7 linked regions of the Homo sapiens genome follow. The protein of the gene in region 1 interacts with the protein of each later gene in a biochemical or structural test. Each region holds a gene or a part of one and is shown in the gene's direction. Other genes may lie near its edges. The genes, in order: POLI, ATCAY, TMEM43, MAP3K20, PEX11B, TM6SF1 and FGF7.

Region 1 (3,960 bases):
TACTACTTAAGTGAATTTGTCATATCACTAAAACCTTTGTTTCAACACCAAAACCAAGACATTTGCATGAAACTCTTCTAAAAAATGCATGTACTCATATTGTATATTAATTATATACTAAATATAGTATATGCTCTTTTAAGATATTGCTCTAATAAGCTATCATATAATGGTAATAGTGATTACTCTTTAACAAAAGTAATGTCATTTTGTAAAAAAAAATCTTTTTTTTGGTAATCTCGTAAGAAAAAAGTTTGAAAAAAGTTCTTTTGTTATTTTTCACTTATTTGCTTTTGTCAGTGAATGATTCAGTTTCTTAAATTTCCTGCTGATTTTAATTTGTTGCCTTTTGGTTAGGTGTGTTGGCTTACGTCTGTAATCCCAGCATTTTGGGAGGCTGAGGTGGGGGGATCACCTGAGGTCAGGAGTTCGAGACCAGCCTGGCCAACATGGCAAAACCACCTCTCTACTAAAAATACAAAAATTAGCCAGGTGTGGTCACACATGCCTGTAGTCCCAGCTACTCAGGAGGCTGAGGCAGGAGAATTGCTTGAACCTGGGAGGTGAAGGTTGCAGTGAGCTGAGATTGTGCCACCACATTCCAGCCTGGGCAACAGAGTGAGACTCCATCTCAAAAAAAAAAAAATTGGTTGCTTTTAGTTTTGTTTTGGATCTGTATTATAAAACAGTTTGTTATGATTGTATCTTATATCTCTTCTATTTCTGACAGCACTCAATTCTGAGTGAGGCCTGAGAGCTTGACATCTAAACATTCAGAGTTTTAGTGCATAGACTTTGTGATGATTATTTGGATACTCAGGGACCTTTATTGCTTACTATTTTGTTATCTGCTATATGTATAATTGTCATATTTAACAAAATCTGGCACCTTTAGATAAATGAGATGTTACATAATTTAAAAAGGTAATACTTTTCTAATTCCTTATTTCCACTTTCTCTTTATTTTTAGAGTATGCCAAGATGGAAGGAAGCCTCATACAGTGAGATTAATAATCCGTCGGTATTCCTCTGAGAAGCACTATGGTCGTGAGAGTCGTCAGTGCCCTATTCCTTCACATGTAATTCAGAAATTAGGGACAGGTATGGACTAGTTTTCCAACAGTTTCATTAGCAGGTTGAACTCTTAAATAAGCCAACTTTGAATGAGAAATATGCTCCAAAAATGGAGGGTCTTCACAGGGAATTAGCAAGCAATTAAATGCTTTTATTCTATCAGGAATTTTCACTGGAAAACTTTGTTGTTTGTTTATTTATTTATTTATTTTTTGAGACAGGGTCTTGCTCTGCACCAAGGCTGAAGTGCAGTGGTGCTGTGATAGCTCACTGCAGCCTTTGTCTCCCAGGCTCAAACAATTCTTCTGCCCCAGCCTCCCGAGTAGCTGGGACAGTAGGTGCATGCTACCAGACCTGGCTAACTTTTTTGATATTTAGGATAGACAGGGTCTCAAACTCCTGAGCTCAAGCAATCCTTCTGCCTCAGCCTCCGAAAGTGCTGGGATTATGGGCATGAGCTACTGCACCTGGCCTTGTTTTTAAATAGATAATTAAGTAAAGAGTCATTTAAGAATGTTTTCCAAGTTCAAAGAGAACAAAACTGTGATAACTGTATAGCATGAGATAACTTCTTTATGGGCATTTAGATTGTTTCCATTTTGAAGAACATTTAAATGCAAGTCATTGGATGGGCATATGCATATGTTTTCATTTATCTTGGGTAGATTTCAAAGAGTGGAATTGCTGGATCATATGGTAACATGAACTGTTTAAGAAGCTGCCAACTTTTTTCCAAAGTTTGTGTATTAATTTACATTTTCATCAACAATATTTGAAGGTTCCAGTTTTTCATATTTTCGCCAATATTTGTATTATCAGTCTCTTTGATTATAGTTGTTCTAGCGGTATATAGTAGTGTGGTTTTTCTTTTATGGATAGTGTTTTTGGTGTTATATGTAAAAATTCTTTGCCTAACTCAAAGGTCACAGATATTTTTTTCTGTTTTCTGTTAGAAGTTTTATAGTTTTTAAGCTTTATGTTTAGGTCCATTTTGAGTTAATTTTTTTATGTGTGGTATACGGTAAGGGTCTTCATTCTTTGCTTTGCATGTGGGTATCCAGTTGTTCCTGCATCATTTGTTGAAGACTATTCTCCACCCACTGAATTACCATGACATCTTTGTCAAAAATTAATTGACCATAAATATAAGAGTTTATTTCCTGACTTTCTTGTTTCATTGGTCTATATGTTTATCCTTAACACTGATTCCACCCTGTGGTGGTCTCTGCTGCTCTGTTTATTTTTCTGTAGTCTTTTTTTTTTTCCGTTTTTTCTTACAAAGTGGATAATTTGTATTGAGCTGCCTGTAAGTTCTCTGATTCATCTGTCATCTCATAACCGCTGTTGCCCCTGTAGTGATTTGTTGGTTTTGGTTACTGTACTTTTTAACTCTAGAATTTCTGTTTGTCTTTTGTTTATATGTTTGGTTTTGTTTCTTTATCAAGATTCTCCTTTTTTTGTAGTCATTATATTTTACTTTAATTCTTTAAACATGGTTGTCTTTAATTCTTTGGACATATCTATAATAATGAATTTGAAGTCTTTGCTAAGTTCACCTCAAAGTCAATTTATGTTAACTGCTTTTCCTCCCAAATATGTATCACACTTTCCTGTTTCTTTGCATGTTTTGAACTATTTTATTGAAAACTGAACCTCATAGATAATGTATTGTAGCAACTCTGGATTTACAATTTTTTCTTGTAGGGTTTTTTCTTTTTTGTTTCCTGTACTTCTTTTTAGGTAACTTGTCTGAACGTAATCTGCAGAATTTACCTCCCCTGTGCTGTGTAGCCACTGATTTCTCTGCTCAAGTGTTTTTTTTTTTTTTTTCCATTCAAATTTTTATTTTAATACTGGCTTCTGGGAAGTTGCCCATGTCTGTATAGTTTCATGGTTAGCCAGTGATTGGCAAAGGTTTTGCTCAAACACTAGAGTCTGGAAGCCGTCTACCTCTGCCAGTGGATAAGTGTATGGGTTGGAGAGGGCTTAAAAAATTTAGGCCATTTTCCCATACTGCCCAAAGTAATTTATAGGTTCAATGCCATCCCCATCAAGCTACCACTAACTTTCTTCACAGAATTGGAAAAAAATACTTTAAATTGCATATGGAACCAAAAATGAGCCCCTATAGCCAAGACAATCCTAAATAAAAAGAACAAAGCTGGAGGCATCATGCTACCTGACTTCAAACTATACTACAAGGCTACAGTAACCAAAACAGCATGGTACTGGCAGAAAAACAGAGATACAGAACAATGGAACAGAACAGAGGCCTCAGAAATAACACCACACATCTACAACCATCTGATCTTTGACAGACCTGACAGAAACAAGCAATGGGGAAAGGATTCCCTATATAATAAATGGTGCTAGGAAAACTGGCTAGCCATATGTAGAAAGTTGAAACTGGATCCCTTCCTTACACCTTATACAAAAGTTAACTCAAGATGGATTAAAGACTTAAATGTTAGAACTGAAATCATAAAAACCCTAGAAGAAAACCTAGGCAATAGCATTTAGTACATAAGCATGGGCAAAGACCTCATGACTAAAACACCAAAAGCAATGGCAACAAAAGCCAAAATTGACAGATGGGACCTAATTAAACTAAAGAGCTTCTGCACAGCAAAAGAAACTATCAGCAGAGTGAACAGGCAACCTACAGAATGGGAGAAAATTTTTGCAATCTACCCATCTGACAAAGGGCTAATATCCAGAATCTACAAAGAAGTTAAACAAATTTACAAGAAAAAAGCAAACAACCCCATCAAAAAGTGGGCAAAGGATATGAACAGACACTTTTCAAAAGAAGACATTTATGCTGCCAACAGACATATGAAAAAATGCTCATCATTGCTGGTCATTAGAGAAATACAAATCAAAACC
Region 2 (4,658 bases), on another chromosome or scaffold:
GGCGTGGTGGTAGGAGCCTGTAGTCTCAACCACTGGAGAGAAAGAGGTGTAAGGATCACCTGAGCCCGGGAGTTCAAGACTGCAGCGAGCTGTGATTGTGCCATTGCACTCCAGCCTGGATGACAGGGAAAACTCCTGTTTCTTAAAAAAATAAGTAAATAAAATAAACATTAAAAACAGCAATAGCAAGAAATACATATAGGCCGAGCACAGTGATTCGCACCTCTAATCCCAGCACTTTGGGAGGCCAAGGTGGGCGGATCACCTGAAGTCAGGAGTTCGAGACCAGCCTGGCCAACATGTTGAAACCCCGCCTCTACTAAAAATACAAAAAAAAAATTAGCCAGGTGTGGTGGTGTGTGCCTGTAATCCCAGCTACTTGGGAGGCTGAGGGAGGAGAACCACTTGAACCTGGGAGTCGGAGGTTGCAGTGAGCCAAGATCGCACCACTGTACTCCAGCCTGGCAACAGAGCGAGACTCCACCTAAAAAAAAAAAAAAAAGAAAGAAAGAAAGAAAGAAAGAAAGAAAGAAAGAAAGAAAGAAAGAAAGAAAGAAAGAGAAAGAAACACATAGGGAGCTTTTCTTGTGCCCCAGCACTGTGTTTAGTGCTGTCTATGCATTATCTCATAATGTGGAAAAGCCATAGCGGCTCCATTTCACAGATGAGAAAAACTGAGGCCCGCAGGTGAGATCACTCATGCCCACTGGTCTGCCAGCTGGGGAGTGGCTGGGCTAGAGTTCAAACCCACTTCCAGTCCGACTGCACGGCCTGCACTCTCCACCCTACCATCTTCCACAGTCTCCTTGAATTCCTCCAGGGCGAGGCCACGCCAGCGCACAACTGCAGGGGGCGCCGTTCCCACAGCAGCCCTGCAAAGTGAGTGTGCCTGAGAAACTTCCGCCTCCCCTGCACCCAGCCCTGTTTAGGGCACGAGGCTGAATCAATGGTAAGTGACCATCTAATGGACCCACAACACGGTGACCTGGGGACAGTCATTTCTTTCTTTTTTTTTTTTTTTCTTTGAGACAGAGTCTCCCTCTGCCGCCCAGGCTGCAGTGCAGTGGCGCCATCTCGGCTCACTGCAACCTCCGCCTCCCAGGTTCAAGCGATTCTCCTGCCTCAGCCTCCCGAGTAGCTGGGATTACAGGCGCACGCCACCACGCCTGGCTAATTTTTGTATTTTCAGTAGAAACGGGGTTTCACCATGTTGGCCAGGCTGGTATCGAACTCCTGACTTCAGGTGATCCTCCCTCCTCGGCCTCCGAAAGTGCTGGGATTACAGGCGTGAGCCATGGCATCCGACCTGGGGACAGTCATTTCTTTGCCTGCACAGACTTTTTGGGGGATGCCACCCCTCACCCCTGCTCCCTTTGCAAGGAGAAGTGCCAAGAAGACCTTTCCCAACTCCCCCACCCCCCATTCTCTAAGGAATGAGGCCATCTTGCCATTTATTTATTTATTTGTCCGTTGTTTTGTTTTTAAATCTCTGATGCGCCATCAGAAAATTATTTCTGCCTCTGCCCCTGGCGTGGCTTTCGGAGATGCTTGTCTGTCAGCCAATGGGGAGGATCGGATTCTGGCAGGGGGCTGTGCTTTTCCGTCAGGCCGCCACCCCCCACCCCCTCCTCCCTGCACACAAAAGCAGCATAAATTAACCGTCTTCGGGAAGCCGAGCCTCTGCCAGCCCTGAGCTGGGAAGAAGCAGCTACCTCGGAGGCAGGGCGCGCAGGCGGGCGGCGATGAGAGGGGGCGCAGCCGCAGCCCCGCGCTGGGGAGCCCACCGCTAACCCTGCACCCCACCCACCCCTGCACAAAAGAGCTGGCGGGCGCTGGCCACGTCGCCCTGGGTGACCTTCCTCGGATGCAGAATCCGCCCCTGCGAGCATCCTCTTCCTCCTAGGCTCTGAAGGCCCGGGGAGCGTGAGCGATGCCCAGCTGCACCCGGGCAGGGCTCGCCTTTGTTTGCCAGTAAGGAGGAGAGGCTGTCTCAGCTGCAGAGGTGAGTGCGCGCATCTCCCCTTCTCCCAGGATAAACCGTCTCCCTGGAAGGTTTATCCGGCAGCCTTTGCCGCCTCTAAATCCCTTTCCAGCAGATGGGGCGGGTGGGAGCAGAGAGCCACGGTCTTGTGACTCCGTGAAGGCCCTCACATCCCTGTTCCCGGTACCAGGGAAAACCGTTCCCTGAGCTGCGCCCAGCAACACAGTTTACCTTCCGCGCGCACCGTTCCCCTCTAAGTGCACCATTTTCAGGACACGCTGAGAGCTCGGGCGGATGAAAACCTCAGCTTCTCTCTGGGACGCTGAAATAGACCCATCCTAGCCCTATGTATTTCCTATTTATAACGCTAGGAAGGCCACCAGCCGACGATTTCGGGAAAAAAAAAAAAAAAAAATCTAAGTGTGTCGATAAAGGCTGTCCTGTGGGGTGGGGAGGAAGGGGGTGGTTTATGGTTTAAGACACAGATGCCTCCTCCTTATTGGAACTCGTATGTGATTTGTTAATAATCAGACATCAGGGCTCAAATGAGCGCTTCACTCCCGTTCCTTGATGTCACTGTCTTCTTTTGGCCGTCCCCAAATGCGAAGCCAGGATCTGAGTGCAGGAGTGTCCGGGGCCCACTGAGGACCCACCCCACCCCATCCTTAGAAGACTGTGGAGTCAACGCCTGTGGCTGCAGCTGGCAGGGGGTGGGGGTCGGGGGCGGGGCTGGTGGGAGTGTTCCTGGGGGCTGAGGTCACACCCAGCTCAGTATAAGGAAGGGAGAGGCGAAGACCCCTTCCTCCGGAGAGCAAATGCGTTTCTACTGCCGAGGAGAACTTACCCTCGCGGGAAGGGCCTGGCTGGCTGCTGCCACCGCCCCCCCCCCGACCCCATAGCATCCAGGAGGGATTTTTTTTTTTTCCATGCTGCGTGTTACTGTCCCTCCTCCAAGCATGAATGACGACATTGAGGACAGAGAATCGAGTGAGAAACGCTCACCCTGTACGGGGGAGGGTCTAGTTTTAGCCGTCCCCTCCCCCCACTTCCTCATCTGGCTGAGGCTGCCTCTGGGTCCTTCCTTGCTAAGCCACAGTCCCCTGTCCCCGATGCAAACCCGATATCTATGCTGGGGGGCTGCAGGTAACCTACTCCACAGAGAGGCAGCCTGGATGCCATGAGAGTTGGGGGCCTTAGATGCTTCATGTATTTGGTTTTTTTGAGACAGGGTCTTGCTATCTTGCCCGGGCTGGTCTTAACCTCCTGTGCTCAGGCGATCCTCGCAAAGTGCTGGGATTACACGTGTGAGCCACTGCCCCCAGCCAGATGCTTTATCTTTTATTTTATTTTTTGAAGTAGGGTCTCTGTTGCTCAGGCTGGAAAGCAGTGGCATGATCATAGCTCACTGCAGTCTCGACCTCCTGGTCTCAAGCGATCCTCCAACTTCAGCCTCCTGAATAGCTGGGACTTCAGGCACCAGGCACCCATCACCATGTTTGGTTAATTTTTGTATTTTTTTTTTTTTAAGAGATGGGGACTTGCTATGTTGCCCAGGCTGGTCTTGACCTTCCAGGCTCAAGCGATCCTCCTATCTCAGCCTCCCAAAGTGCTGGGGATTACAGGTGTGAGCCACCGCACCAGCCAGATGCCTTATTTTATTTTATTTTATTTTCTGAAATAGAACCTCACTCTGTTGCTCAGGCTGGAATGTGGTGGCACAATCATACCTCACTGCAGCCTCCACCTCCTGGGCTCAGGCAATCCTCCCACCTCAGCCTCCTGAACAGCTGTGACTTCAGGCACCCACCAAATTTAATTAATTTTTGTTTTTGTTTTTGCTTTTCGTAGAGATGGTGTCTTGCTATGTTGCCCAGGCTGGTCTTGACCTTCTGGGCTCAATCCTCCCACCTCAGCCTCCTGAATAGCTAAGACCTCAGGCACCCACCATTGTGCTTGGTTAGTTTTTGTATTTTTTTTTTGAGAGATGGGGTCTTGCTGTGTTGCCCAGGCTGGTCTCGAACCCCTGGTCTCAAGTGATCTGCCCAAAGTGCTGGAATTCCAGGCATGCACCACTGCACCCAGCCCCTAGACGCTTTAAAAAGTGGATCTAGTGGCCCGGCAGGGTGGCTCACACCTGTAATCCCAGCACTTTGGGAGGCAGGTGGATCATGAGGTCAGGAGTTCGAGACCAGCCTGGCCAATATAGTGAAACCCCATCTCTACTAAAAATACAAAAATTAGCTGGACGTGGTGGCACGCGCCTGTAGTCCAAGCTACTCAAGAGGTGGAGGTTGCAGTGAGCCGAGATCGCACCACTGCACTCTAGCCTGGGCGACAGAGCGAGACTCTGTCTCAAAAAAAAAATGACAACAAAAAAAGTGGATCTAGCTACTCGGAAGCTGTTGAGAGACAGACAGAGGTAATGGAAGGACAGAGTGTACAATACTCTATAATGACTGCCGGACACAGGCCTGAAATCCTTTCGCAAACACGGGAATGCACACAGAAATGACTATTGCCTTTAAGACAAGGTTTCTCCACCTTGGATCTATGGATATTTGGGACCCAGTCATTCTTGGTCATGGGCGGCCATCCTGGGCACTGTAAGGTGCTGAGCAGCACCCCTGGCCTGCCCAGGGGGCACTCCTTCCCCTCAGTTGTGACAAAAGTGCCTCTA
Region 3 (3,960 bases), on another chromosome or scaffold:
TAAGAGACTCGGGAATATGTGGCCTGGACTGGATGGGGTGGTAGGGGAGGAGCGAGCCATGTCTTTCCCATAGATGTGAGTGGGTGGGTGGGTGTGCCATGTGCTGAGATGGAGAAGGCGCCAGTGTCAGCACTAGACAGGCTGAGATGTCAAGTGGAAATGTCAAGGAGGTGGTGGAGGTGGTGGGAGCTGCAGGGCTGTGAGGCCCGGGAGAGGGCCAGAGCTGCAGCTTTAAATTGGAGGGTCACGGCATGTGGAGGCCAAGGAAGCAGATGGGATGTCCGGGGAGAGAGTATGGACTGAAGCAGCTAAAGAATTGCAGCATCTAATGGACAGGAAGAGGGGCAGCGACAGCGATGGAGCCTGAGAAGGAGGGTGCAGTGTCCCCAAGCCATGTGGAGAGGTTCTGAGATTAAACAGATCACACACATAGCGCAGAGCATGCTGCCCAGCAGACATCCTCCAACCTGCTCAGGGGTGGTGGGCAGGGTCCTGCTCATTCCAGGTGAGACCGTGGGCTGAGGGCTCCAGGTGCTGGCAGGCTCTGAGCTGAGGAAGGCCCGTACGTTCCACAGAGATCTCATGCCTTGCCCTGTGCTCTGCCAGATGGGCAGAAGGACTTAGCCCTATAGGAGGCTTGCCCCCACTCCGTCTGGCCTGTTCAGAAATGGCCAACAGCTCCCGAGTTGGTACAGCCCCCTCAGGACCTGCCCTGCCGACTGGGTACGCCACTGGCCCTCAGCATCCTGACCTGCCCCCACCTTGTCCTGCAGGAGGTGTTTCATAGAGAACTAAGGAGCAACTCCATGAAGACCTGGGGCCTGCGGGCAGCTGGCTGGATGGCCATGTTCATGGGCCTCAACCTTATGACACGGATCCTCTACACCTTGGGTAGGTGTTGGGGTGGGTCACTGCCCTCCCTCCTGCACCCTGAAAGGGCCTCCTCTGCCTGTCGCATCATCTCAGCCCTTCCAGCCTGATGGGATGGCCCTTGTGCAGATACCAGGCATTTGGCTCATCTCTGTGTCCCCGCTCCATAGCCTTGGGATGAGGGAGCAGAGGAAGGCAGGCTTGAGGGCAGGAGCTGCCAGGGGCCAGGCTGGGTGGGGCCAACTCTGGGGCACTGGTCTCACTCCACAGCCTGAAGGTTCGTCCATCTGCTGGCTCGATCATTTGCTCATTCCTTTGATCCACAATTGAATACCACATGGGAGCCTGCCAGACCTGCATTTGAAATCTGTCACGTCCAAGCTCTGGATGCTTGGCCGTTCCCTTCCCATCTCAGCTTCAGTCACCTCACCCCTTACATGCAGAGTTTTATGAAATGTGGCAAATAGGAAACACCCAAAACTCTCATGCTTCCTTCCTCACTCCAAAACCTGGGCTAGATTTGGGCAGCCAGCAAGTCTGGAGCATGAAGGAGAGTTCTGGGCCACTCCTTGACCTGAGGTTGGCACCAGTGAGCCCAGTAGGAGACCTGTGGCCCAGCGTGGTTCGGGATCTGAGTGCCCAGGGTGACTAAGTGCGTTCTGGGCCCAGGAGGATGGGGTTCCTCGGAGGACTCTCCATCCAAGCCTTTCCCTGGTGTGTGTCCCTTCCAGTCACATGATTGCATCAGTCTTCTCTGGGTGCCAACAGAAACCTCTTCCCCACTCAGCATGCACAAGTCAGAAGAGGTCTGGCTGCACATCTTGGGCTGTCTGAGCTGGGGGGACCACCTCCTTTGTTTACAGTTGGGAAAACAGGCCCGGGAAGGGAAGGACTCTCCCTGAGCCTTTCTTTGGACAGCTGAATTGTGCTCAGAAAGACCAGTGACGTGGTGGGCACATTAGCGAGAGATGAGCATTTAAACGGAATCCTCTTTCTTGCCTGTGTGACCCTGGGGAGACCAGTTCCCTTCTGGAGCCTTGGTTTCCTCGTGTCTGTCTCAGTGGGCCCTTCTTTGGATCTCTGATGTCTGTGATCCCAATTCACTCTACGTCTGGAATGCGCCAGACTCAGGACAGACTTAGAGTGTGGAGGGACCCCCAGGGTGGGTGGGGAGAGTTGGGAGCGCAGCAGGGAAGCACACAGTTCCCCATGCGTTTGATAAATACCAACGTGTGTAAGACTCCACAGCTAGAGACAGACAAGACTTAGAGCAACAGCTCAGAGCCCAGGCTCTGGGCCCATACGGTCTTGAGTTCAAATCCTGGTTCTGGCACTTTCTAACAGGAGGACTGGTGGTGAGTTTCTTAATTCCCTGAGTCTCAGTGACCCTGTGGGTAAAATGGAGTTAAGAAGAGTACCTACCTTACAGGGTGGGCATGAGTGCTTCATGAGATGGTGCACATGGTGCCTAACACAGGCAACGTTCAGAAACATGAACTTTGCTTATTATAAGGGCTGAGTAGCAGTGCTGTATGGGAACAGATCAGGATGAGGCCAGGTAGTGGCTTGCAGGGTGTGCTGCAGGCATGGTGGGGCACCAGGGCTTGCTCTGCAAACCCAGTGATTCCAGACCATTGGTGGCCTCCTGGGAACTGAGCGAAGATTCCCTGAGTGGACATCAGCTATGGAATGCCAACCTGGAGAGGTCACACAAGGCAAGAATAGGGTAATTCCTCATGAATTTAGCTGGATTCTGGGCTTTATCCTATTGGACCAATAGTCTGTGAGATTCTTGAGGAGAGGCCAATGCTTAGGCTAATTTATTTCCTCTAGCACCTGCTGGTTCAGTGCTGGGCACATAAATCATTAGTAACAGCCTGCTGCATGAATGAACCAACACCTCTAGGAATGGCTGAGAGGCCCAAATAGGCACCTTCAGGAGGCTCCACCCACAGCCTCTTGTATGAGTGTGCAGGACCCAGGTTATTTCTAGCATTACAGGCAAATGTCTTTATACTGGCCTCAGACTACTCTCCACATAAAGTATTAAAGTTTACAAAGCACTGCTACATCCTCTCCCCTGGATCAGGGTAGAGTGGGTGGCTTAGGCAATGTGCCCAACCACGCAGCTCATAGCAGAGGCTCCTGTGCTCCCTTAGCTTTCAGAACGAAGCTCCTTGCCTTCCACCCACTGATCCTCTCCCCTCCTCATGCATGTAGCAACATGGGCCCATCCTCATCTAGGGACAGGAGAGATCTGCTGAGCTGGTGAGGTGTAGAGCAGGTGGCACCTCATCACCTTTCTCCTTTCCACAGTGGACTGGTTTCCTGTTTTCCGAGACCTGGTCAACATTGGCCTGAAAGCCTTTGCCTTCTGTGTGGCCACCTCGCTGACCCTGCTGACCGTGGCGGCTGGCTGGCTCTTCTACCGACCCCTGTGGGCCCTCCTCATTGCCGGCCTGGCCCTTGTGCCCATCCTTGTTGCTCGGACACGGGTGCCAGCCAAAAAGTTGGAGTGAAAAGACCCTGGCACCCGCCCGACACCTGCGTGAGCCCTAGGATCCAGGTCCTCTCTCACCTCTGACCCAGCTCCATGCCAGAGCAGGAGCCCCGGTCAATTTTGGACTCTGCACTCCCTCTCCTCTTCAGGGGCCAGACTTGGCAGCATGTGCACCAGGTTGGTGTTCACCAGCTCATGTCTTCCCCACATCTCTTCTTGCCAGTAAGCAGCTTTGGTGGGCAGCAGCAGCTCATGAATGGCAAGCTGACAGCTTCTCCTGCTGTTTCCTTCCTCTCTTGGACTGAGTGGGTACGGCCAGCCACTCAGCCCATTGGCAGCTGACAACGCAGACACGCTCTACGGAGGCCTGCTGATAAAGGGCTCAGCCTTGCCGTGTGCTGCTTCTCATCACTGCACACAAGTGCCATGCTTTGCCACCACCACCAAGCACATCTGTGATCCTGAAGGGCGGCCGTTAGTCATTACTGCTGAGTCCTGGGTCACCAGCAGACACACTGGGCATGGACCCCTCAAAGCAGGCACACCCAAAACACAAGTCTGTGGCTAGAACCTGATGTGGTGTTTAAAAG
Region 4 (3,960 bases), on another chromosome or scaffold:
GCATTTTAAGGAGCCTTCCCAGTGATTAAGAACAACTCTAAAGTCCTTAAGCCACTGATTTAAACTGTAATAAAATTTATTATCTTCCATAACAAGAAGCCCAGAGGTAGGGCAGGCTCCAGGTGCAGTAAGATAAGCTGGCTCAACCATATTCAGAGAGTGGAATGAACCTTCCCTTCTTTCTGCCCTGCCATGCTCAATAGGCTGCCTTTGCCCTCGGCTCCTCTCCTGTTTACAGTCATCACACAAAGATATCACAACGCCCAGAGGAAATAACGGGTTAGGTCCCTACCTGTTCTTATATATAGGAGTAAGGAAAACTTTTCTAGAAACCCCCAACAGACTACCCGTCAGCAATTCTGCTTTGGCCAGAATGGAGCAACCTGTCCGTTCCTAAACATAGCATGAGCACATCTGACTTAAACTAATTAAAGTCGATCCCTGGAGCCAGAATGCAGTCAACTCTCCCGATCACGTGGCTACATGGAGGGGGATGGAGACTGAGCAAAATCAGGGTTCTATTGGAAGGCAAAATTCCAGAGAAGTCAAGGCGAGGAAAGAAGGCATTGTGATTCTGTATGCTACTGCTCATGTGACGTATGTAAAGTAGTCAAAGTCACAGAAACAGGAAGTAGAAGACAGTTAACAAGTGGCGGTCAGGGGGCAGGGGAGAAGGGAGGGGAAATGGAGAAAGAGGAAGGTAGAGATTAGTGGGTATAGAGTTTCAGTGTTGCAAGATGAAACAGTTACAGAGATCCGCGCAACAATGTGAATATACTAACACTACTGAACTAGAGGCTTAAAAATGGCTAAGATGGAAAATGTGGTTTTTACCACAATAAAATACACACATACACACAACAACAACAACAGAAGAAGGCATTGTGATGGACTGAAGCCTGGGAGGAGTCTCTGGAATTGTCTGGACAAGTCACTCACTTCAGAGCTCGGGGTCACCTGTGCCCAGGCAGTGAGGAGACAGAGACATGTGCATGCTCTGATACTCTCCACGCGCACTATCTGCGTGAGCAGGGGGTGGAGTAGCTGAGGAAGCTGAGGCTGGGAGGACCACCCAGGAACTCTAGAACATGGGTAACGTTGTTCAGGCTCGGGGGAAAACAGAAAAGATCTCAGGTGTGAGGAACTTGCTTATTCACTGAAATATAGCTTACTAAATGGTTCTTGTTAATTCACCATTTTCTTTTATCTTAACTTCTTCCTATCTGCCAATGCAGCTTCATTTTTTTATGCTGAAAATACTTCTTATTCCCGAGCCTCAGGATCTCTCCTGTGGACACGTGAACGGTCTTTCTTCCAAACAATCTCTAGCTGTCTCAACCTTCGGAACCTCATTTCTCTTATCTGCATTTAGGGTCCTTGAGGTTTTAAAAATGCAGGTGGCAAAACAAACCTTTTGTTTACTAAACATGCCCCTGCCACCTGAACATACTTTCTAGAAGTAACAACACAACTATGTAGGAAGAAGATGGGATTTAGATGCAGAAGGACTTGGTATTATTGACTGAGTGATCTTGGGCAAGTCATTTGACCTCTCAAGCTTCCTCATTTATAGAATAAAACTATTAGTGTTTACCTAAGAAGATTACTGAGAGGATTAAATGAGATAGTGTAAGTAAAGCCCATGGAACAATGCCAAGCACATAGCATATATTGAATAAGTGTAAATGTCCTTATTTTTTAAAGTATTTGTAATAAAAGAAACGTCCTTATACATAGCCTAGAATTTCTATGAATGGTAAAGCTTAGAGCATCCCAAACAGCCCTGAATTATCCTAAGACAGGCGTATGAATTAGACATGCAGCTTTAGTGTGGCTTAAAAGATGCTCATTTCCATTTCTCCCGCAGGTGCTGATTGCCAGTGGTTAGATACTCTGAGGATGCGGCAGATTGCATCCAACACTTCTTTACAGCGTTCCCAGAGCAATCCTATTCTGGGGTCACCGTTCTTCTCACACTTTGATGGCCAGGATTCCTACGCTGCTGCTGTGAGACGGCCCCAGGTGCCCATTAAGTATCAACAGATTACACCTGTGAACCAGTCCAGAAGCTCGTCTCCTACTCAGTATGGACTGACCAAAAACTTCTCTTCCCTACATCTCAACTCTAGGGACAGTGGCTTTTCCAGTGGCAATACTGACACCTCTTCAGAGAGGGGTCGATACTCAGACAGAAGCAGGAACAAATATGGACGTGGTAGTATATCACTCAATTCTTCTCCTAGAGGAAGATACAGTGGAAAGAGTCAGCATTCCACTCCTTCAAGAGGAAGATACCCTGGAAAGTTCTACAGGGTTTCTCAGTCAGCACTCAATCCTCACCAGTCGCCTGACTTCAAGAGAAGCCCCAGGGACCTCCACCAACCCAACACCATACCAGGGATGCCTTTGCACCCTGAGACTGACTCAAGAGCCAGTGAAGAGGACAGCAAAGTCAGCGAAGGGGGCTGGACAAAAGTGGAATACCGGAAAAAGCCCCACAGGCCATCTCCCGCCAAAACCAATAAAGAGAGAGCCAGAGGGGACCACCGTGGATGGAGAAACTTTTGATGAATTGAACTACATAGCTTTTCTAAGCAGGTTAAAAAAAAAAAAAAAAAGAAATGTAATGGTTTTTGATAATATGATCCCTTCAGATTGAATTAACGAAAAGACAACACTTCCAGTTTTTGGATTGGGAAATACCTTCTAATTGAGACTATAGCCAAACCAGGGCCAAAATTATGGATATTGGTCACCCAGTGATCATAACTAGGCTTGAAAATCACTACACATATTTTCTGCCTTGAGTGAACATTTTTAGAGGAAAGGTTATGCCATCTTTTTACCCTAACCACTGATATTCTGGTTAGCAGGGCCAGGACAAGGGGAAGGAAAATGAGGTCAACAAAAAAATCAAATTTTTAGGAAAAGATAAGATGAATGTTACTGATTTTTCCTTTTGGCTGAGGCTGCAATATGGCCTGGCAAGGCACTGTTACTGATCTTGTCTTTAACATTTTGATATTTTGTTCATCATAATTTTTGCATTTATTTTTTTAAATATTGCATTAAAATATCATTTAGCTTGATTATCGAGTTTTTTGGTTTGAGGTTTTTTGTTGCTTCTTTTTTCTTTTCTTTCTTTCCCCCTCTTTTTTTTGGATGTCCCCTTAAATTTTGTGCCCAAGGCAGGTACCTCACTCATCTCATCCTTGGCTCAGCCCTGCTGGTTAGTATTTAGTATTTATTTTAGTAAGATATTTGTGTCTGTATGATGGTCAGAGTTGAACTGATCTGGCTTGTCATTTTTCAGTAATAAAAAAAGTTACTGAATTTAATGTTGAATATGATGCATATCTCATTCATTACGATTTATCAGAAACCAAAGATTTAAATTGCCTAGATTTGTGGTTCTTTCTCTTCCTAAGTTCCCAGCGACTGCTTTCAAATACTATTTTCTAAATTTCACCAAAGGAGCAAAGAGGATAAAACAACACTCCATAAAGGCCTCTTGGGATGTCAGAAATCTAAAATCTAAAAGAAAACAGACACAGAGCAAGACAATAACATCACAAGCTAAAAGCCAGAGAAATTTAAAATTACCAACATCCTTGTTGGAGTAAGACAGTAAATATCAGCCTTGCAGCAAGACAGCTCTGAGCAGCTGTGGGCAAAGAGGTAAACCAGTGGGGGTGCAAGGAGACTGTCTGCAGCTTAGGGCAGAAATGGTGGGATCCAACTTGTGAAATGCTTCATGTTTTACAAACCAAAAAGTCAGGTAGCAACAAACTTATTGTATGTCAAATCAATAAATGTTACTTTCAATATTCTGAGATTCTGTTCAGCATTCACTAACCCTGTTTAGCATTCACTAAGCCCTACATAGGATTCTCAGTGCTCTGTAGAAATCCAGAGGACACTCTTCTAATTCTGTGGGTTTGAATTCTTTTTTAAAAGAAG
Region 5 (4,582 bases), on another chromosome or scaffold:
AGGAATCGAAAAGGCAGGCTCTTAACAGATGTAAATTAACATACAAATAATCTTACAGAAGAGAGAGCAGAGGTAGCAGGGTGCGGTGGCTCACGCCTGTAATCTCAGCACTTTGGGAGGCTGAGACAGGTGGATCATGAGGTCAAGAGATGGAGACCACCTGGCCAACATGGTGAAACCTCGCCTCTACTAAAAATACAAAAATTAGCCGGGCATGGTAGCGGGCGCCTGTAGCTTCTCGGGAGGCTGAGGGAGGAGAATTGCTTGAACCCGGGAGGCGGAGGTTGCAGTGAGCCGGCAAAAAAAAAAAAAAGCAAGCAGAGGCTTACTCCCTGAGAATTAATGGCTAATGGCCCCCAAGCGCACCCTTTAACTCATGCTATGGACCCAAATCCCTGTCCTGCCCGGTCCTGAGTCCTAGGTCACTCACCTGGGGGAAGGCAAGCAGGAAACTAAGTCCCCAGGCTGCCCCCAGAAGTTTCCTTACACCTGAACGGGATCCAAGCGGGTTGAGTACTGCTGCCTGGCGGTCCAATCCAATGACCACAGGCAGGAAAGCTGCAGAATACGTGGCCATTAGTTTCAGGAACATCAGTGTCCGACATGCGATGTCCACAGCCAGCCATTGAACAGTGATATTCCAGGTGGCATCTAGGGGCATAACCACAAAAGTGACTAGTAAGTCGGCGGCTGCTAAATGGATGAAGAGTCTCCTGACCGGAGAGGGGCGGAGCTGGCTGGGTTCCCGCCGTGTCACTGACCACAGGACTGCCAGGTTCCCTCCAGCCGAAGAAACAAACAGCACAATGGTCACTCCCACTCGGACCTTGGCTGCTGCCGAGAAGGTGGGCAGCTCTGAGCCCTCCACCTCCACTCCTGATCCAGCCCAGACCTCCTCCCCCGCTGCTGACCCCAAGGGGTGCCGTTGCCTGCAGACATGGTGGCCTGGAGAGAAACTGAGGAGGATGAAGTGTGGGTATGAAGCGGTTAGCTTTGGCCACTGATTCTTCGCCCTCCTTTTCAGGATCTGGAGCTGATTATTGCGAATTTCGTTCACTAAAGCCTCTGCTTCTGGAGACTCTCCATCTGTTCTGGAGGAGGTCACTTGTTCAACTGTCAAGGTTCTGCAGGGAACGAAGATCTGGTACCAATCACGCTCCTTTTTCCTTGGACAGACCAGCCTGGGCTTCAGGCCTCTACTGACCTAGACCTCTTTAGCCCCTACAGCCCTGGATTCAGTCGGGGCCTGCGTGCATGTGTATTTGTGAGGTTCTGCCAGGCGCACACCTATGCCGGCGGCCTCCAAGACGTGGAGATCACTGCGGCGCTTTCTCGCCCCGCCCCGGCCCCTGCAGGCCCCGCCCTTGGTCATGAATATTTAAAGAAGAAGGTGCCGCTGGAGGCGTGCTAGGGAGTAGGGGTCGTCTGATAAGGGGAAGCTGTGACGCAGACACGCACAGTAATACACAGATGGAGGCTCAAAAGACACGAGTTTCGCGTCCTGAAATTCCGCTTCCAGGGCCAAGCTTTCTTTTCTGATACTGTTTGTCCCTCGCGAGGCACCGTTGGGTCGCGCAGTAGGCGTGACTAGGGGCGGGAAGTGGGGCGGGAGCAGGGCCGCGGAGCCTGGGCTGCGGCTGTCATGGACGCCTGGGTCCGCTTCAGTGCTCAGAGCCAAGCCCGGGAGCGGCTGTGTAGGTGCGGCCCGAATAGGAATGGGGGTGGGGCGGGGGAGGGATGGACAGAGGAAGACTCTAGTGAGGCGAAGTCAGTTTAGGCTACAGGGGGGTCAAGAAGGGTCAACTCCGGCTACGGGGGCCCGAACGGACCGTGAGGCGCAGATTTGAGCCGCTGTTGAGATGATTCCTTTCCGTTCGCGGAAGAGATGGGGAAACTGAGGCATGAGTGGGCCAGCGGGGAGGCCGCTCAGGGTTGCTGTGTCCACATAAGACCGACAGTGTCCTCACTGGGCGGTGATGGAATGAGGAGCATTCGCCCCACGGTGGATAGCCCCAGACTCTGCCCCCAGAGCTGAGGAGGCACTCCCAGTTTCCGTGTCCCCACACCGTGCTGCCATTCGGGAACTCCCCTGCCTCCGCCCTGGCGTTTGGTCTCCATTCAGCTAGAGGGCCTTGAAATCTCTCAGTTCACCTATTCTGAGGAATAAAATGCCCTCCAACTGTCTGCCTCCCCCTCATCGATCACGTACATGCTCACGCTGATGTGCTTGTGATGGACCCCTGCGGCCTGCACTGGCCCCTTCAGGCCTCATCATTGTCAAATCTCTAATTTGCTCAACATTCAATAGTGCTCCCCACCCCTTTCTAGACTCTTTTTTCTCCTTATGCCTTTCCCTTCCTCTGGCCTGGAGAAATGGTGAGATATGGGCATGGAGGAGGAAGGGGAGTGTTCTCAAACTGGGAAAGGGGGAAGTCTGTCTGTGCCTTTTGGAAGATAGTTTTGAGCGGAAGGTTAGGGAGGTCTCCACCTTACCTTGCCTGCCCTCTCCTCTAGGGCCGCCCAGTATGCTTGCTCTCTTCTTGGCCATGCGCTGCAGAGGCATGGAGCCAGTCCTGAGTTACAGAAACAGATTCGACAACTGGAGAGCCACCTGAGCCTTGGAAGAAAGCGTAAGTAACTCTGTCTTTCCTTTTATCCCCCAACCTTTCCTCCATCCCCAGCTCACCTTCCTTTGTCCCTCCTTCCTGTACCCTCTCTGTTCTTCTTTCTCATTTGGCTCTGCACTTACCCTCTGCATGAGTCCAGTTGAGATAAGAGAGCAGGGGTATGGAAGTAATTAGGCGGACTGGAGAGAATGGGTCAAGTTTGAGAAAACTAAACTGGCACAAAAATTAAATTTGAAATTGAAAAATGGACTGTTTCTGCTCTTTATTTTTTATTTTTTTGAGACAGAGTCTCTCGTCCAGGTCAGAGTGCAGTGGCGCAATCTTGGCTCACTGCAACCTCTGCCTCCCAGGTTCAAGCAATTCTCCTGTCTCAGCCTCCTGAGCAGCTGGGACTACAGGTGCCCACCACCATGCCGGGCTAATTTTTGTATTTTTAGTAGAGATGGGGTTACACCATGTTGGCCAGGCTGGTCTCAAACTCGTGACCTCAGGTGATCCACCCACCTCGGCCTCCCAAAATGTTGGGATTACAGGCTTGAGCCACCATGCCCAGCCTGTTTCTGCTCTTTAAAAAAATTGTCATTATTATTGCTCAACTTTTGCCCTCTTGCTTTCTCTGTTTCTGTTTCTTGTTATCTGCCTCTCCACTTACAAATCCTTGCTTTCCCTTTCTAATCTCCACAAGTTCTACGCCTGGGTAACTCAGCAGATGCCCTTGAGTCAGCCAAAAGAGCTGTTCACCTATCAGATGTTGTCCTGAGATTCTGCATCACTGTTAGTCACCTCAATCGAGCCTTGTACTTCGCCTGTGACAATGTCCTGTGGGCTGGAAAGTCTGGACTGGCTCCCCGTGTGGATCAGGAGAAGTGGGCCCAGCGTTCATTCAGGTTTGATATCCTGTTCTCCTTTAAGATTTTTTTTTGTAGCCTCTATATTGCATAGCTTGTCTTATATGAGGGAAAGATATCTTAGGATCTTTCCAGAGTATATAAGTCTTGATCAGTCACTTGGCTTCCAATCACTTAGATCTTAAACTATCGGAGAATATCAAATGGGGAGAGATGGAAGACAGATGCTCTTCCATAATGAATGACTAATATTGTGCAAGGTAAGATATTATATCACTTTAATTGTGCTTCTATACCACAGGTTATTCCCCCTCACTACCTGCTTACTCATTCATTCCAAAGATATTTATTAGATGCTTACTGTGGCGCAGGGGATAAAGCAAAGAGCTAAACAGATAATGTGCCTGCTCCCATGAAGCTTCTAGTTTAGTGAGGGAGTTAGATACTACAATGAATAACTTCTCATATATATTTGTGGAAAAGTATGCGGTATTATGAAAGAATATCACAAGGGGAGCTAATTTAGATTGGAAAATCAGGAAAAAACTCTTTGAGAAAGTAATATTTTAGCTCAGACCTGATGTCTGAGTAGGAGGAGTTAGACAAAGCCAACAGTAGCAGAAAAGACATTTCCAAACAGAGAAAATTGCACATTCTAAGTAAGGCTTTGAACTAAGAAAGACTTAAGGGAATTAGAGAAATAGAAAGAAAGCCAGTGTGATTGACAGTATTGAGTCCATCAGTTCAAATTTGAGAGATAGACAGGCACCAGATCTTTCATACAGGGCCTTTTAGGCAATGTTAATGTTTGTTTTATTTTATCCTACAATGGGACATTATTGAAGGATTCTGAGCAGGGAAATGACATGATTCAAATTGTGTTTAAAGGACATCTCTTTTTGAGATGTTGAAAATGGATTGCAGGCCGGGCGCAGTGGCTCACGCCTGTAATCCCAGCACTTTGGGAGGCCGAGGTTGGGGGGATCACGAGGTCAGGACTTCAAGACCAGCCTGGCCAACGTGGCAAAACCCCGTCTCTACTAAAATTACAAAAATTAGCCAGGTGTGGTGGCGGGCACCTGTAATCCCAGCTACTCGGGAGGCTGA
Region 6 (3,500 bases), on another chromosome or scaffold:
GCTGTAACCTCTGCCTCCCAGGTTCAACCATTTCTCCTGCCTCAGCCTCCCAAGTAGCTGGAATTACAGGTGCATGCCACCATGCCCAGCTAATTTTTTTTTTTTTTTTGTACTTTTAGTAGAGATGGCGTTTCACCATGTTGGCCAGGCTGGTTTCAAACTCCTGACCTCAAGTGATCTGCCCACCTCAGCTTCTCAAAGTGCTGGGATTACAGGCATGAGCCACCATGCTCGGCCTGAAGGAAGTTTTTGTCAGCATTGAAGATTTGGGGTATATGTCTAGCAGCTCCTTTGCAACATGGGGTACATGTCACTTGTCTTCACCTTTGGGGCTTTGGCCAAAATTCTGTGACCCCAGAAAAAGTCCATTTAACATTATCATTGTAAGTATAACTCATACTTATAATGATTAAAAATATGGATCCAATTTCATTTCTTCTTTCAACTTTCTTTTTCCTTTCATGCTGTTGAGTTTCACACACAATAGGGAAATGCAGGAGTCCTGTGGCAGGGATGATCATGTTGTAGTTTAACAGAAGACATAGCAGGCGTAATTTCCTATTTAAAAGGACACGAAGAAGGTTCTATAGTATATCACATGGCAATGAAGTTACATAACCAGGGCTCCTTGTGTTTGATTTATTCCTCTCAATTCAATATGTTTTGATTGATGTACTTTACTAGTTTGAATACAAAATAATATTGAAGATCATTTTTTGCTTAGTATTCTAAGACAAACATACCAAGTCAAGATTTTTTTGTTGTTGTTGTTACAGGGAAACTTATAGAACCATTGGCCTATATTGGGTTGGATCTATTATTATGAGTGTTGTTGTTTTTGTGCCAGGAAACATTGTAGGTAAGAAACTTTATCTTAAAGTTCACTTTCCTTTTCTAAAACAATGGGGCTTGTTTTTAAATAGAGAAGCTCTTTTAGTTATAATAGAACCAAGTGATTCCAAGCTTACTAAAAACCTGTTTTGCAGAATAATTCCTTTTTCTCACCTTTAAAAAAAGTACTTTTTAAGAAGTGCTTTGAGCAATTTTCAGATGTGTGCATTGAACAATTTGGCAGTCAAGTTATCAGGGATTCCTGTTTTTTTAGAAGGATCTTGAGGGAGTGAGTATGGTGTTTATGGCTATATTTAGTGTGCAAATATGTTAACTCCTGACACACTATGAGAACTCCAAAAATGTACTTGGAAATTACAAGTACATTATTAATGTATGCAGGAAATCAGGATATATAGGTAGATAGATAGATAGATAGATATAGATATAGGGAGATAGATATATACAAACATATATAGATACCTATCTAGATGTATTTTTTGAGACAGGATCTCACTCTGTTGCCCAGGCTGGCTTGCAGTGGTACAGCCATAGCTCACTGCAGCCTTGATCTCCTGGGCTCAAGCAGATTACTGTAGATAGGACATGCCTGTTAATACACATCTAGTATTTTAAATTGACCTTTTTAATTTGGCCTCATTAAAAATATTGTCTGGCCCATAGCAAAATTTTAGATGACCTGAGATGGGGAGGTATCCTAAATATTACTTGTGTTAGATATGCTTTTGGTAACTTCTTTCTCTTTCTCTCTTTTAAATAGGGAAGTATGGAACACGAATTTGCCCTGCTTTTTTCTTAAGCATACCATATACTTGTCTTCCTGTCTGGGCTGGTTTCAGAATCTATAATCAGCCATCAGAAAATTATAATTACCCCTCAAAGGTGATTTTATTAAGCTTTGATGTACCCTGTTCTCAAACTCATAGGGTTCTTTCGCATCCACTGGCCACTGAATTGAACCATGCCTCTGTGGACTGGAGCATTTGGGGCATCCAAACAGTGCGACTGTTTTGATTATGTAGCATTAGCTTACGTATTAATTAATGTAGGCAAGAAGGTCTGTTTCTGTCTGAATACATCTGCTTCTGTTGGCAAGGCCATACTTTGGGGAGCTTCCTGTGCCAGTGGTCACACTGGCTCTAACTATCAGATTCTGCATTAGTGTGTCAAGTGAAGTCCATAGTGTGTGGTTCATCTAGGATTGTTAATGGCCTGGACGTTGAACACCTGGGTTCCTCTGTGACACCTATGCATTTACTACCCCAAGAGGACACTGGAGGGATACTGCTCCTCAAGGTAGTCTACACAGCCATACAATCTTGACTCCAGAGATCCAGGCCCATAGAGACTGGCTACAGGACATCTGAGACACCTCCCTTCCATTCACAGCCAAGGTAGTCAAGGTGAAACAGCACTGGCCTGGCAGATACTCTGTTAAGGCCTTCATTTCTAAGCTAGTTTCTCTCTGTTTCTTTTACTTTTCTAGGTATTAGATCATTTAGCAAGATCTTTTAAGCAAAACTGATATATGAAAATATGAATTACTAGAGATAATCAGAATACGACTATTCATTTTACAAAAGATTTTCAGTATAATTCATTAAAATACATTTTAATTGACAAATACTTCATTTGTAAACATTTAGACACCTTCTATGTAAACTCAGGCTGGCACACTGACAGCTGGTACTAACTTCCCTCTGAGGAAAGAGGTGGCTGTTAAAAAGAAAAAGCAAATAGTCAGTCCACCCTTAGTCCCAGCTCCACTGCTTTTAAAGGTTCCATGTCAGTGTGTCAACAGAGTAGGTATGCCATGAGGCATGCAGAATTACTTATCATTATTTTTAATGTGAAAACACAGTGACAGCCAGGGCCAAGCAGGCATTGTCATACAGTGCTGACAGAAACATAAATTCAGAATTGCTCTGCAAAGCAATTTGGCAATGTTATCAACCTTAATAATTCTGGAACCCAATAATTCTGCTCCTAGAGCCCTATCTTCAGGAAATCATCACACAGATACCACCAAAGATTTACAAAGTTGTTCATCATTACATTAAGTATAACAGTGAAAAATGCCTAAATATCCAACAGTGGGAGAATGGCTAAAGTGTGGTGTTTCCATATGGTATTCAGTTTGAGAAAATTTTTAAACATGTGGGAAAGTGCTTATAATATAGGCAGATGTTGAGAGCAAAAAGAACAAATACAGAATTGTTTATATACAGGAATAATTTTATATATAAAATTGTTCCTAATTTTGTGAAAAATGTAGATATATGTGTGTGTATATATGTATGTTGTGTGTATGTAACTATATCTATTTACATGTATTACTGGAAAAGTATACCAACGGTTAATAGTGGTGTGGCAGGTTTATGGTTTACCTTTAAAATTTATTATCATTAAAATGTCATTTCAAGAAAAAAAGTGGACTCATAGAGCTACAAGAGCCCTTCGAGAGATCATTTAGCCCAAATTCTTCATTTCACAGATAAGGAAATTGAGACTTGAGGAAGGAAATGATTTTCCTAAAGTTCCATGGCCAGTGATTTATGATATAAATTGTGCATCTTCAAAATTCTCTTATCCATCATCATGACATTTAATGTTTCAGATTTCAGATTCTTCTTTGGCACTTTGGGCCT
Region 7 (3,500 bases), on another chromosome or scaffold:
TTACTTTATTTAGTGTGTCATTAAAACACAGGATTTAAGGAAGATATATATAATAAAGGAAAATAGTAAGTTACCATTCTTGTGTAAACACATTTTGTAAATACTATTTCAACAAAGATTTAAAAGTTAATTACAAAGGTATAAAGTTATGAAGTATTATATAAACAGGATTCATAATTTTGTTTTAAATGGTCTTTTAATGTATCAAAATACTATCAGTTTAAAACAATCTTTTTTTTAAGGCAGTAGGCTCTGTTTACCATCATTTACACTTGCTTTAATTAGAATTTTCTTCACTTTCAGTATATTCAAGAGCTATTCTGTTGGCAATAATTTTTAAGATAAAGTTTATCCAAATAGAAAAGTAATTATATAATGATTAAGAGCCAGAATGTCTGGGTTCAAATTCCAGTTCTGCTACTTATCAGGTATAAGAATTTGGGCAAATTTCTTAGTTTCTCTGTGCTTCAGTTTCCTGATCTGTAAAACTGGGATAACAAGACTACCTGTCTCAATCTGTGGTTATGAGTAAATGAGTTAATACATAAGAGCAATGCAATAATCCTTGGCATGTGGTATGAGTTCAATAAACATTAGCTATTATTATTATAGTAAATTAGAAATTTAATTCTAGAGAATAAAAAGCTGAACTCAAATATGTAACTATTTATTTGATACAGACACATTTTCTACAAAATAAAAAACCATCGGTTTGCACTTCCCTTATATAATGACTATCTTGGTGTTTGTGTGTATCTGTTGTGGGTCAGGGGTCTTGGGCTGAGTAAATAATCACATTAAAAATTTTAAAAACTTCCGATTAAAACAGAAATAAGAACAAATGGCCATTCGTGGATCATTTGCAAAACTGAACGAATATTTGACATGTCTTTCTGTGATTCCTTGCAGATATCATGGAAATCAGGACAGTGGCAGTTGGAATTGTGGCAATCAAAGGGGTGGAAAGTGAATTCTATCTTGCAATGAACAAGGAAGGAAAACTCTATGCAAAGGTATTGATAATTGATAGCTTAGGCTTAATTTTTAAAACTCATTTTTGTCAAAATATCTCACCTTTCTGAAAAGTAAAAATGGAATTAATTTATCTCCAACTGTATAATTTAATGATTTTATTAAAACACTTTATACTCAAACGTTAAGAAAAAATGTTTTCTGTGTGACTTTGGACAAATGGCTTGTTCTTTGGATTTTGGTTTCTTCATCTGTAAAATGAGTTGAATTAACTGACCTCTAAGGATCCTTCCAGCTCTAAAATTCCATGTGCATTTTAGATATTTAAAATCCAAAATTTCCATTTGCCAGTATTAAAGCTCTTTTTGTTAAAGTTCACCCAATTTGCACATTGCTGACATGAAAATTCTTGGGAAAAAATCTTGAAATGTTTAGTTCATTCATCAACATCAATCTCACAATCATGGGCATTGAAATGTAATTATTCACATTGTCCCCACTTCACTACAATGCAAAATATGTAACAGTTCATCCCACCATAATAAAATATAATTGGCTTTCCTTTGTATTCCCACAGCTAGGCATAATGATACAGGTTTAATTGAATGAACAAATGGTTGCATGGATGAACAAACAAATTAACCTTTTATCTTCCATTACCATTGAAGACAATGTAGAAGTAAATAAAGTTGTGAAACAAGTCTCTCACCTGAGGGAGGCAGAGGTTCTGCTAATTATACCAAATTTCCAGTGGTTAAAGAATGAGTGATGTGGGAATAAGTAATATGAGGCCTGTTACTTAGGGGGAAATAGGTCCTAATTTAAAGAATAGTTGACATGAACTTCCAAAAAGCTACACATATTTCATAACTAGCTGTGTATTATGTGGTGTTTTTATTTCAAATTTAAGATACCTTTTTATGCAAATATACTACATAAGTATAGCTAATAAACCACATTAGGCCTGCTCAATCTGAGGGTTAAAAAAAGTTGTGTATGTTTCAATTCTACCAAATATTACCTGCTTACTCTTCGTTTAATTGAGCCTCTCTAAAAATCATTTGGATAATGTCTGTTTGTTTGTTTGTTTTAACAGAAAGAATGCAATGAAGATTGTAACTTCAAAGAACTAATTCTGGAAAACCATTACAACACATATGCATCAGCTAAATGGACACACAACGGAGGGGAAATGTTTGTTGCCTTAAATCAAAAGGGGATTCCTGTAAGAGGAAAAAAAACGAAGAAAGAACAAAAAACAGCCCACTTTCTTCCTATGGCAATAACTTAATTGCATATGGTATATAAAGAACCAGTTCCAGCAGGGAGATTTCTTTAAGTGGACTGTTTTCTTTCTTCTCAAAATTTTCTTTCCTTTTATTTTTTAGTAATCAAGAAAGGCTGGAAAACTACTGAAAAACTGATCAAGCTGGACTTGTGCATTTATGTTTGTTTTAAGACACTGCATTAAAGAAAGATTTGAAAAGTATACACAAAAATCAGATTTAGTAACTAAAGGTTGTAAAAAATTGTAAAACTGGTTGTACAATCATGATGTTAGTAACAGTAATTTTTTTCTTAAATTAATTTACCCTTAAGAGTATGTTAGATTTGATTATCTGATAATGATTATTTAAATATTCCTATCTGCTTATAAAATGGCTGCTATAATAATAATAATACAGATGTTGTTATATAAGGTATATCAGACCTACAGGCTTCTGGCAGGATTTGTCAGATAATCAAGCCACACTAACTATGGAAAATGAGCAGCATTTTAAATGCTTTCTAGTGAAAAATTATAATCTACTTAAACTCTAATCAGAAAAAAAATTCTCAAAAAAACTATTATGAAAGTCAATAAAATAGATAATTTAACAAAAGTACAGGATTAGAACATGCTTATACCTATAAATAAGAACAAAATTTCTAATGCTGCTCAAGTGGAAAGGGTATTGCTAAAAGGATGTTTCCAAAAATCTTGTATATAAGATAGCAACAGTGATTGATGATAATACTGTACTTCATCTTACTTGCCACAAAATAACATTTTATAAATCCTCAAAGTAAAATTGAGAAATCTTTAAGTTTTTTTCAAGTAACATAATCTATCTTTGTATAATTCATATTTGGGAATATGGCTTTTAATAATGTTCTTCCCACAAATAATCATGCTTTTTTCCTATGGTTACAGCATTAAACTCTATTTTAAGTTGTTTTTGAACTTTATTGTTTTGTTATTTAAGTTTATGTTATTTATAAAAAAAAAACCTTAATAAGCTGTATCTGTTTCATATGCTTTTAATTTTAAAGGAATAACAAAACTGTCTGGCTCAACGGCAAGTTTCCCTCCCTTTTCTGACTGACACTAAGTCTAGCACACAGCACTTGGGCCAGCAAATCCTGGAAGGCAGACAAAAATAAGAGCCTGAAGCAATGCTTACAATAGATGTCTCACACAGAACAATACAAATATGTAAAAAATCTTTCACCACATATTCTTGCCAATTAATTGGATCATATAAGTA

The links.
Region 2: the proteins of POLI (region 1) and ATCAY form a complex in vitro, tested with the Homo sapiens proteins (one large-scale study listed by BioGRID).
Region 3: the proteins of POLI (region 1) and TMEM43 form a complex in vitro, tested with the Homo sapiens proteins (one large-scale study listed by BioGRID).
Region 4: the proteins of POLI (region 1) and MAP3K20 form a complex in vitro, tested with the Homo sapiens proteins (one large-scale study listed by BioGRID).
Region 5: the proteins of POLI (region 1) and PEX11B form a complex in vitro, tested with the Homo sapiens proteins (one large-scale study listed by BioGRID).
Region 6: the proteins of POLI (region 1) and TM6SF1 form a complex in vitro, tested with the Homo sapiens proteins (one large-scale study listed by BioGRID).
Region 7: the proteins of POLI (region 1) and FGF7 form a complex in vitro, tested with the Homo sapiens proteins (one large-scale study listed by BioGRID).

What each region holds. Positions count from the first base shown.
Region 1 is NC_000018.10:54,286,311-54,290,270, forward strand, and holds part of POLI (DNA polymerase iota isoform a (long)), read left to right. Parts: intron 1-970; coding exon 971-1,101; intron 1,102-3,960. UniProt on the Homo sapiens protein: Error-prone DNA polymerase specifically involved in DNA repair. Plays an important role in translesion synthesis, where the normal high-fidelity DNA polymerases cannot proceed and DNA synthesis stalls. Favors Hoogsteen base-pairing in the active site.
Region 2 is NC_000019.10:3,879,007-3,883,664, forward strand, and holds the start of ATCAY (caytaxin), read left to right. Parts: upstream 1-1,678; 5' UTR 1,679-2,002; intron 2,003-4,658.
Region 3 is NC_000003.12:14,138,407-14,142,366, forward strand, and holds part of TMEM43 (transmembrane protein 43), read left to right. Parts: intron 1-773; coding exon 774-891; intron 892-3,186; coding exon 3,187-3,389; 3' UTR 3,390-3,960. UniProt on the Homo sapiens protein: May have an important role in maintaining nuclear envelope structure by organizing protein complexes at the inner nuclear membrane. Required for retaining emerin at the inner nuclear membrane.
Region 4 is NC_000002.12:173,264,183-173,268,142, forward strand, and holds the end of MAP3K20 (mitogen-activated protein kinase kinase kinase 20), read left to right. Parts: intron 1-1,867; coding exon 1,868-2,568; 3' UTR 2,569-3,833; downstream 3,834-3,960. UniProt on the Homo sapiens protein: Stress-activated component of a protein kinase signal transduction cascade that promotes programmed cell death in response to various stress, such as ribosomal stress, osmotic shock and ionizing radiation.
Region 5 is NC_000001.11:145,915,749-145,920,330, reverse strand, and holds the start of PEX11B (peroxisomal membrane protein 11B), read left to right. Parts: upstream 1-1,613; 5' UTR 1,614-1,642; coding exon 1,643-1,698; intron 1,699-1,801; exon of another isoform or gene 1,802-1,885; coding exon of another isoform or gene 1,886-1,899; exon of another isoform or gene 1,900-2,376; intron 2,377-2,514; coding exon 2,515-2,630; intron 2,631-3,312; coding exon 3,313-3,514; intron 3,515-4,582. UniProt on the Homo sapiens protein: Involved in peroxisomal proliferation. May regulate peroxisome division by recruiting the dynamin-related GTPase DNM1L to the peroxisomal membrane. Promotes membrane protrusion and elongation on the peroxisomal surface.
Region 6 is NC_000015.10:83,121,145-83,124,644, forward strand, and holds part of TM6SF1 (transmembrane 6 superfamily member 1), read left to right. Parts: intron 1-776; coding exon 777-859; intron 860-1,612; coding exon 1,613-1,734; exon of another isoform or gene 1,735-2,246; intron 2,247-3,500. UniProt on the Homo sapiens protein: May function as sterol isomerase.
Region 7 is NC_000015.10:49,482,242-49,485,741, forward strand, and holds part of FGF7 (fibroblast growth factor 7 precursor), read left to right. Parts: intron 1-909; coding exon 910-1,013; intron 1,014-2,068; coding exon 2,069-2,263; 3' UTR 2,264-3,500. UniProt on the Homo sapiens protein: Plays an important role in the regulation of embryonic development, cell proliferation and cell differentiation. Required for normal branching morphogenesis. Growth factor active on keratinocytes.